Homo sapiens: one gene and its partner. The protein of the gene in region 1 interacts with the protein of each later gene in a pairwise test. Each region holds a gene or a part of one and is shown on either strand. Other genes may lie near its edges.

The links. The genes of interacting proteins can lie anywhere in the genome.
Region 2: the proteins of RNF125 (region 1) and PNMA6A interact in a two-hybrid assay, tested with the Homo sapiens proteins (one large-scale study listed by BioGRID).

Annotation. Positions count from the first base shown.
Region 1 is NC_000018.10:32,021,825-32,025,324, reverse strand, and holds part of RNF125 (E3 ubiquitin-protein ligase RNF125), read right to left. Parts: intron 1-3,500. UniProt on the Homo sapiens protein: E3 ubiquitin-protein ligase that mediates ubiquitination and subsequent proteasomal degradation of target proteins, such as RIGI, MAVS/IPS1, IFIH1/MDA5, JAK1 and p53/TP53.
Region 2 is NC_000023.11:153,071,289-153,075,253, reverse strand, and holds PNMA6A (paraneoplastic antigen-like protein 6A), read right to left. Parts: upstream 2,801-3,965; 5' UTR 2,648-2,800; intron 2,320-2,647; 5' UTR 2,192-2,319; coding exon 992-2,191; 3' UTR 235-991; downstream 1-234.

The DNA.
Region 1 (3,500 bases):
CTCATGTCTAAAGTTCTGCTCTCCTGCATTAAACTTCCTAATCTCTCTGGCTTTTGGATACTGGTGTGTGCATGTGATATATGTTGTGTCTACATGTATATATATGTTTACACATGAGTTTGTATAGTCTGTAGTACCAAACTGACTTCTAAATAAATGAGTACTCACAAATTAACTATCCCAAATGTTTTTCGAAGTTCATATGACTTTAGTAATCTTTGGTAAATCAAGCTAGGTTTTTTTGTTTGTTTTTGTTTTTTTGAGAACGACTCTCAATCTGTCACCCAGGCTGGAGTGCAGTGGTGCGATCTCAGCTCACTGCAACCTCTGCCTCCTAGGTTCAAGCGATTCTCCCACCTCAGCCTCCATGTGCGCCACCATGCCCGGCTAATTTTTTAGTATTTTCAGTAGGGACAAGGTTTCGCCATGTTGACCAGGCTGGTTTCCAACTCCTGGGCTCAAGTGATCCGCCTGCCTCGGCCTCCCAAAGTGCTGGGATTATAGGTGTGAGCCACTGTGCCCAGCAATAAAGCTAGTTTTAAATTGTTAGTTGGCTGGGTGTGGTGGCTCATGCCTGTAATCCCAGCAGTTTGGGAGTGCTCATGCCTGTAATCCCAGCTCTTTGAGAGGCTAAGGCAGGAGGATCACTTGAGCCTAGGAATTCAAGATTGGCCTGGGCAACATAGGCAGACCCTGTCTCTATAAAAAAATAAAATTTTAGCAGGGTGTGGTGGGGCATGCCTGTTGTTCCAGCTACTCAGGAGGTTGAGGTAGGAGGATTGCTTGAGCCCAGGAATTTGAGGTTGCAGTAGGCTATGATCACATCACTGAGTAGTTTGTTCTTAGATCATATCTCTAAAAACAAACAAATAAAACTACTAGAAATAAGACAAACAATTCTTCAGGCAGAATATACCAAAAAAGCAAGATATGTTCTTGGAGAGAAAGGTTGTAAGAATGGCATGAGGCCGGGTGTGGTGGTGCACGCCTGTAATCCCAGCTACTCAGGAGGCTGAGGCAGGAGAACCTGGGAGGCAGAGGTTGCAATGAGCCAAGATCATGCCACTGCACGCCAGCCTGGGTGACACAGTGAGACTCCATCTTAAAAAAAAAAAGAAAAAAAAAAAAAAAAGAATGGCATGAAGTGTGATTTTTTTGTTAATGGAAAACGAATTGTGTCTAGTTTAGAAGTTATTTGAAGCTTGTTTCAAATTGAAAGAATAAAAAAAGATATAGATAAAACTAAATGAATATAGAAAGTTGGAAATAGAAGAAAAATCGTAAGAGGTTATAAAAGATATGTAAATCTTGTGTGGTCAAAGCTGACTGAAATTGGATGGACTTGTTTATTAGGTTTTATTTAAATTTATTATTGATATACTGATTCAAAAGTAAAATATGGTTTTCTCTTTTGAACAAGACTTTTGTGTAGTAGAGATGGGGTCTCACTATGTTGCCCAGGCTAGTCACAAACTGCTGGTCTCAAGCCATCCTCCTGCATCGGCCTTCCAAAGTCCTGGGATTACAGGCATGAGCCACTGCACCTGGCCAAGTATACTTTTGTGAGCAAAATAATTTACCTTTTTCTCTTTGGATTCACAAACTGGGTTTTGAGTATTCCTATTTCATGGCAATATAGTTACATGCATAAGTTCAGTAACAGTCTGAACAGGACATAATTGGAGACAGTGGTTATTTTAGCAAGGCTTTAACTGGAATGTCATACTTAGATACATGATCAAACTGTTTTGAGGGACTGAAATTGACATTAAAAAGCCAACAGACTTAGAAAAAGATTGGCCTGGTACCCTGTGTATATGGTTCCCTTACAAAATCCTGACCTTGCGGTATGTAAAGAATTGTCACTTTCTTGGCTGGGTGCAGTGGCTCACTCCTGTAATTCCAGCACTTTGGGAGGCCGAGGCAGGCAAATCACCTGAGCTCAGGGGTTCAAGACCAGCCTGGGCAAAATGGCGAAACCCTGCCTCTACAAAAAATACAAAAACTAGCCAGGTGTGGTGGTGCATGTCTGTAATCCCAGCTACTAGAGTGGCTGAGGCGGGACAGTCACTTGAACCTGGGAGGCAGAGGTTGCAGCGAGCTGAGATCACGCCACTGCCCTCCAGCCTAGGTGACAGAGTGAGACTCCATCTCAAAATAAACAAATAAGTGAAAAATAGCCAGGCATGGTGGCAGGCACTTATAGTCCCAGCTACGTGAGAGGCTGAGGCAGGAGGATTGCTGAGCCCAGGAGGTGGAGGCTGCAGTGAGCCATGATTGCACCACTACACTGCAGCCTGGGTGGCAGAGTGAGATCTCACCGCTAAAAATAAATAAATAAATAATAAAAATAAAGGAAATGTTTAATGTTTTAAAAATTAAGCTTTAAATGGGGGACTAAAGGAAACTGAAAATATTTCACCCCAAAATGTACTTCTTTGATATATTCCCACAGGAATAACCCTGAAAAGCTGCCTTTTGTGGAGGAGACTTGCATCTGTAGAGAAAATCTACACTGGTGAAATAAACAACCAGGCTTTCTTGGAGGCACCCCCTTATCTGTACCTAGGAAATTATTAACTGAAAGTCTGACACCTACGAAGGTCTGACAGAGCAACTTAACACAGGCTCATGCCTATTCTTTCTAGGAGCTGCTATCTATGAAGTTTCATCTGCATAACTAGACCATCTTTGCCCCAGCCCCTTCTTTCTTTCTCCCTCCCATAACCATGTTCCAAGCCCCTACTCTGCTGTAACCTCAAGATGGTATAAAAGCATCAAGCATCTGGCCCTTTCTCTCAGTTTTCATATTTTGTATGACTCCCATGCCCATATGCTCATTAATACATTTGTAAGCTTTTCCCCCCTTGTTAATCTATTAGCAGTTTGTTTCATAGACTCAAATGATCAAAACTTTAGGGGAAAAAAATCAAATTCAAATTTCCCTAAAGTGGTCACACATCTGGCTAGTGGCAGAGGTGAATTTCAAATCCAGCTCTCTGTAAGGGCCAGTTACTACTGCATCACAATACAACTTATAAAGTGCTCTTACATATTCATTCAAGGTACTGTTGTTATTATTAAACTTGTTTGACTTGAAATAGGTTTACAAACAAAAATCAGCATAAACCACCTAGTTCAACATGTCTGAAAATGTAGCTTCAATATGGGATAATAAAATACAGAAGGTTCATTTGCATTTATTCGTTTTCCAACTTAATTTCAATGGAAAAGAGTAATTCATTTAGAATGTACAAATGGTATTAACGCTCACAATCTCTACTGCAGAAAGGACTCTGGTTAACATTTATAAAGTGGAAGGGGACCAAGTAAGTTTGCCAAAAGGAGGAATATGGAAATTCTGCCCACAGCCAGAACAATGGACATAGATTTGTCAAAACAAAGAACAGTAAAGAGAGGAAAGGCAATTTGTTCAGCCCTTGTAATGCTATTTTATGACTATTTTTCCAGTTGCTAGTTTCCTATTCACTTTAACAAAG
Region 2 (3,965 bases), on another chromosome or scaffold:
ACCTACTCCTGGGAGGTGATCAGCGTGCCCTGGGAACCCAATCAGCCCCTGCTCAAGACTACCACGCCATCCCGTGCAGCCCAGGGGACCACACAGACCCTCAGGGACCAAGCACCCCACACACCCCGATGTTAGCCCAGCCACTGTGGCACCTCACCTCACCTTGTCCCCAGCCAACACTGCACCCCGCACCCCGCACCCCATGCAGTTTCCCACAGCAGAGGCGAGGCCGGCTGGAACACTGAATGAAATTTATTGAAGAGAGATATGTACTGAAACCGTTGAAGAGAAGGGAATCACAACACAGAAGCTGCAAATGGCCACCACAGGACACAGGTCGGGACCCCCCTCCTCCTGGGGGAACACCCACCCCAGGTCTAGGAAACTCAGTAACAAGTAACAACAGGGGTGGAACGCCAAAGCACAAAGTTCACTGGGGAAACTCAGACAGCCCCACTCCATCCCGGGTCCTGTTCTTTCTCCCACAGTCATGGTCACCATCGCTGTCACGGGATGAGTGTCCACTGTGCCCTGGTGCCTTCTTTCCGCCATCTCCCGGGACTGCGCTGGGGTCCTCTGGGGAGGAGCTGCTCAGAGAAGAACACACACGGCTCCACAAAAACAAGCAGCCCCTGGCCTAGATCTACGCAGGGAAAGCAGAGGTGGTGCTCACGATACGGGAGAGCAGTGAGCACAACCTGGGCTCCCAGGAAGCTCACAGCACGTGCCCCTGGCACTGGAGGGGCGCCTCCCCCCACCCCATTTGGTATTAAATGTGGTCATCTGGGTCACCGGGAAGGTGGTGGTGGGCAGGGCCCCTTGGGGGGAAGTGGGGGGCCCCGATCCCGATGTGGGGTGAGGGACCGGCCCTGGCCCCGCCTCCGCCTGTCTCCAGGGCCCTGCTGCCTGAGAGGAGGAGAGGAGGCCCCGGGGCCCTCGGAGCCTATTTGCCCGGGGAGGACTCGCGCTGGGCTGCCTCCCCAGCCCCAACCTAGTTATCACATTCCTCCAGGACGGGCTTGAGCCCCTCCTGGAGGAGCTCCTCAGCCTCCTGGCCTCCTGCCTGGAGGAGGCCCTCTGGCTCCCGACCAGGACCTCCTGGGACCGCCTCTACTTTAGTGCTGGCTCTGGCAACAGCCTGGGCACCAGCCCGGGCACCGGCCCCTTCCTGTGTCTGGGCTCTCACGCTCCTGGCTAGACTGGCCTCCCATGCCTCAGACTCCCGAACGAGCCCCAGCATCTCCAAGAAACTTGGAGACCTCCCGGCCATTCTCAGCTTCCTCAGTGCTTCATCCAGAGGCTCAGTAAGGTGGGCCCTGGTGAGCATCTGCCTCAGGCGCACGCGGTCGGCGGATGCTCTGGCCAGGGCCTCCTTCTCCATGGCCTTCTGCAGCAGCACTTCCAGCCGCAACACGAAAGCTGAGAGACGCTCGCCTGACTGCTGCTGAGCGGTCAGACACTTCACCCGGATGGTCGCCTGGGACTCGTTGTCTCCAAACACCTGGGCCAGGGCCGCCAGACAGTCCTGCGCCGTCCTGGCGGGGTTCTCCGCCAGGAGCGCGTGCACGAGCTGCAGGGCGGTCCCACGCAAGCCTTCCAGCAGCCTCCTCCTCCTCTCCCTTTCCGAGACCCCCTGCCACACATGCAGCATTTCGGTGGTGTGGTCTAGCCAGACCTCAAAGGACTCCTCCCCTGGGGCTGGCTGGTCCCTCCCGGAAAACACGCCCAGGCTCTGGCACCTCACGGCCTCCACCCAGGGCTGGACCGCCTGACCGATGGATCGCAGCCAGCACACCCTGCGCAGCCCCACACCCAGGGCGCCGGCCACGCTCTCCACCATCTGCCCCTCTTGCTCCGGGAAGTGGAACACGCGACCGAGACCGAGAAACTCCTCGCCTGAGCAACGGGGCACAAAGACCACGTTCCACGGGCCCCCAGTGCCGGGGATTTCCCTGGGGACCAAAGCATAGTTGACTTCCCGGTCGAGCTCGACCAGGGCCGCGGTGGCATTATCCTCCTCTCGAAACGCTTTGCCTAGCACTGTAAAGTGTCCCATAGGCCTCAGGGCAGCCTCGAGGGACTCTTGGAATTCGGCATCATCACAGTCCTCCGGGATGCCCAGGATGAGCAGGCCCCTGCGAGCGTTGACCCCCATCCACCGGCACCAGTCCTGCAGCATGGTCACCGCCATGCCCGCGATTCTGGCCAGTGCCGGGCTGACACGAGGGGCAGGATAGGGTTCCCAGCGCGGACCAGGGTGGCACGGGGCGGCGGGGGTGTGGGGGGATGAACTGGGGTCGGAGCCCAGGTCTCCACAGCCTGTGAATGCGAGCGGGCGAGAGCGAGGTTAATGCCCACCCCTCCCCACGCCCACGTCCACGTCCACGTCCACTCCCACCCCCAGCCGCCCTCCTCCCCTGGCCGCGCCTCTGCAGCCAGGCCCCGCCCCTGTCCCGCCCCGCCCCCCCGGGGGGGTGGTCCCTGCGGGTCTTGGCCTCATCCCCGCGCCGCCCCCGGACCCCGGACCCCGGACCCCGGACCCCGGACCGCTGCCCCGCAGGCTGCTTCAGTTCTGTTAGGGCGGACAGGCGAGGGGCGGCGGAGTCTCCCGGGACCCAGCGTCCCCCTCCCCGGGTGGGTCTGATACCTTTTCCCGGGGCAGGGTCCCTCCTGGTCCGGGTCCCCACAGGGCGCGTCGGGGGCTGCGCGCCGCTGCGGCGGCGGCGGGGTCGGGCGCCCCTGGCTCCCCGCGCGGGCGTTCCCTCTGACTGTGCCTCTCCCTCGCTCGCTCGGCGTTTGGGCCGGTGCGCAGGCGCCTGCTCGCAGCCGCTCTCTGCAGTGCGGTCACGCGGCCGGGGTGCGGCGGCGGTGCAGCGCGGACCCCTCCGCGTCGCCGGCCCGGGAGAGCGCAGGGCCGTTGCCGCGGGCGGGTCACGTGGCCTGGCTCTCGCCGCCTTCCCGAGCGCCCCAGGACCCCGGGTGACGTCACCTGCTCCTATCCCCTAGCCCCACCCCCACTCCCCTCGCGCCGCGGGTCCCGGGAACACAGGCGCCAGCCCACCCCCACCCCCACCGGGGTGTCCAAAGGTCTGTGGGCCGCAGGTCCCAGCGCCTTTGGCTCTCACCACAGCGGTTCCTGGTCCAGGCCTCTGCCCCTCCCGCACGTGCCCCGGAGGCAGGCGCCAGCGGGGCGACGGGTGTGCACCCCGGCGTGCCCACCAGAGGGCCAGGGAGTGGTCTGAGGTGCGTCCGGCAGCTCTGCGTTCTGGCCAGGGTCAGGGAGCCGGGTTCTGGGGCCTGTGCACCTGCTCTTGTCCTCCCCCTCCCCGTCCAGGACTGGTCCTCTGGCTGGCAAGGCCAGGCGAGGCCAGGGGCACCTGGTGCGGGTGCCATTCCGTGGAGGAGATGCCCCAGGCGCTCACGCAGCTCACGCACACCATCCTACGGAGGGTCTGCCATCTCCCCGCTGCCCATCCGGCTTCAGGGACCCGCAGCCCTCCGGCCGAAGCACTTTGCTGCCCTGGTGCCAGGAGCCAGCACCTAGGAGGGTGACCCAGCACCCAAGTATGCCCGGGCCTCGTCCGTTTTGCAGCCGCAAGTCCCGAGTCTGGGTCTCTGCCTGAGTGTGTGCCTGGAAAGGTAGTCCGCGCGGAGTGGGCTACTCAATTTGTCCCCTGCCCCCTGTGCCCTCACCAGCCTGATGGGCTCTGGGACATTGCTCTCTTGGCCCTGAGGGCAGCATGGGTGTCGTACCTCCCTGGAGACCTCCGTCTGTCAGGGCCTGAGTCAGCCTTCCATAGGTCCTTCCCCAGTCCTCTGTTGCCGGGGCTAGACACTGCGCCAGGGCAGAGCAGCCTCCGCTCAAAACAGAGATTCTGCGCCCGTGGATCTGACCACCCTGCACCTGACCCATCATGGGAGGCTGGGGCCATGTGAACAGCATCTCCACCAGGCAGGTGGCAAAC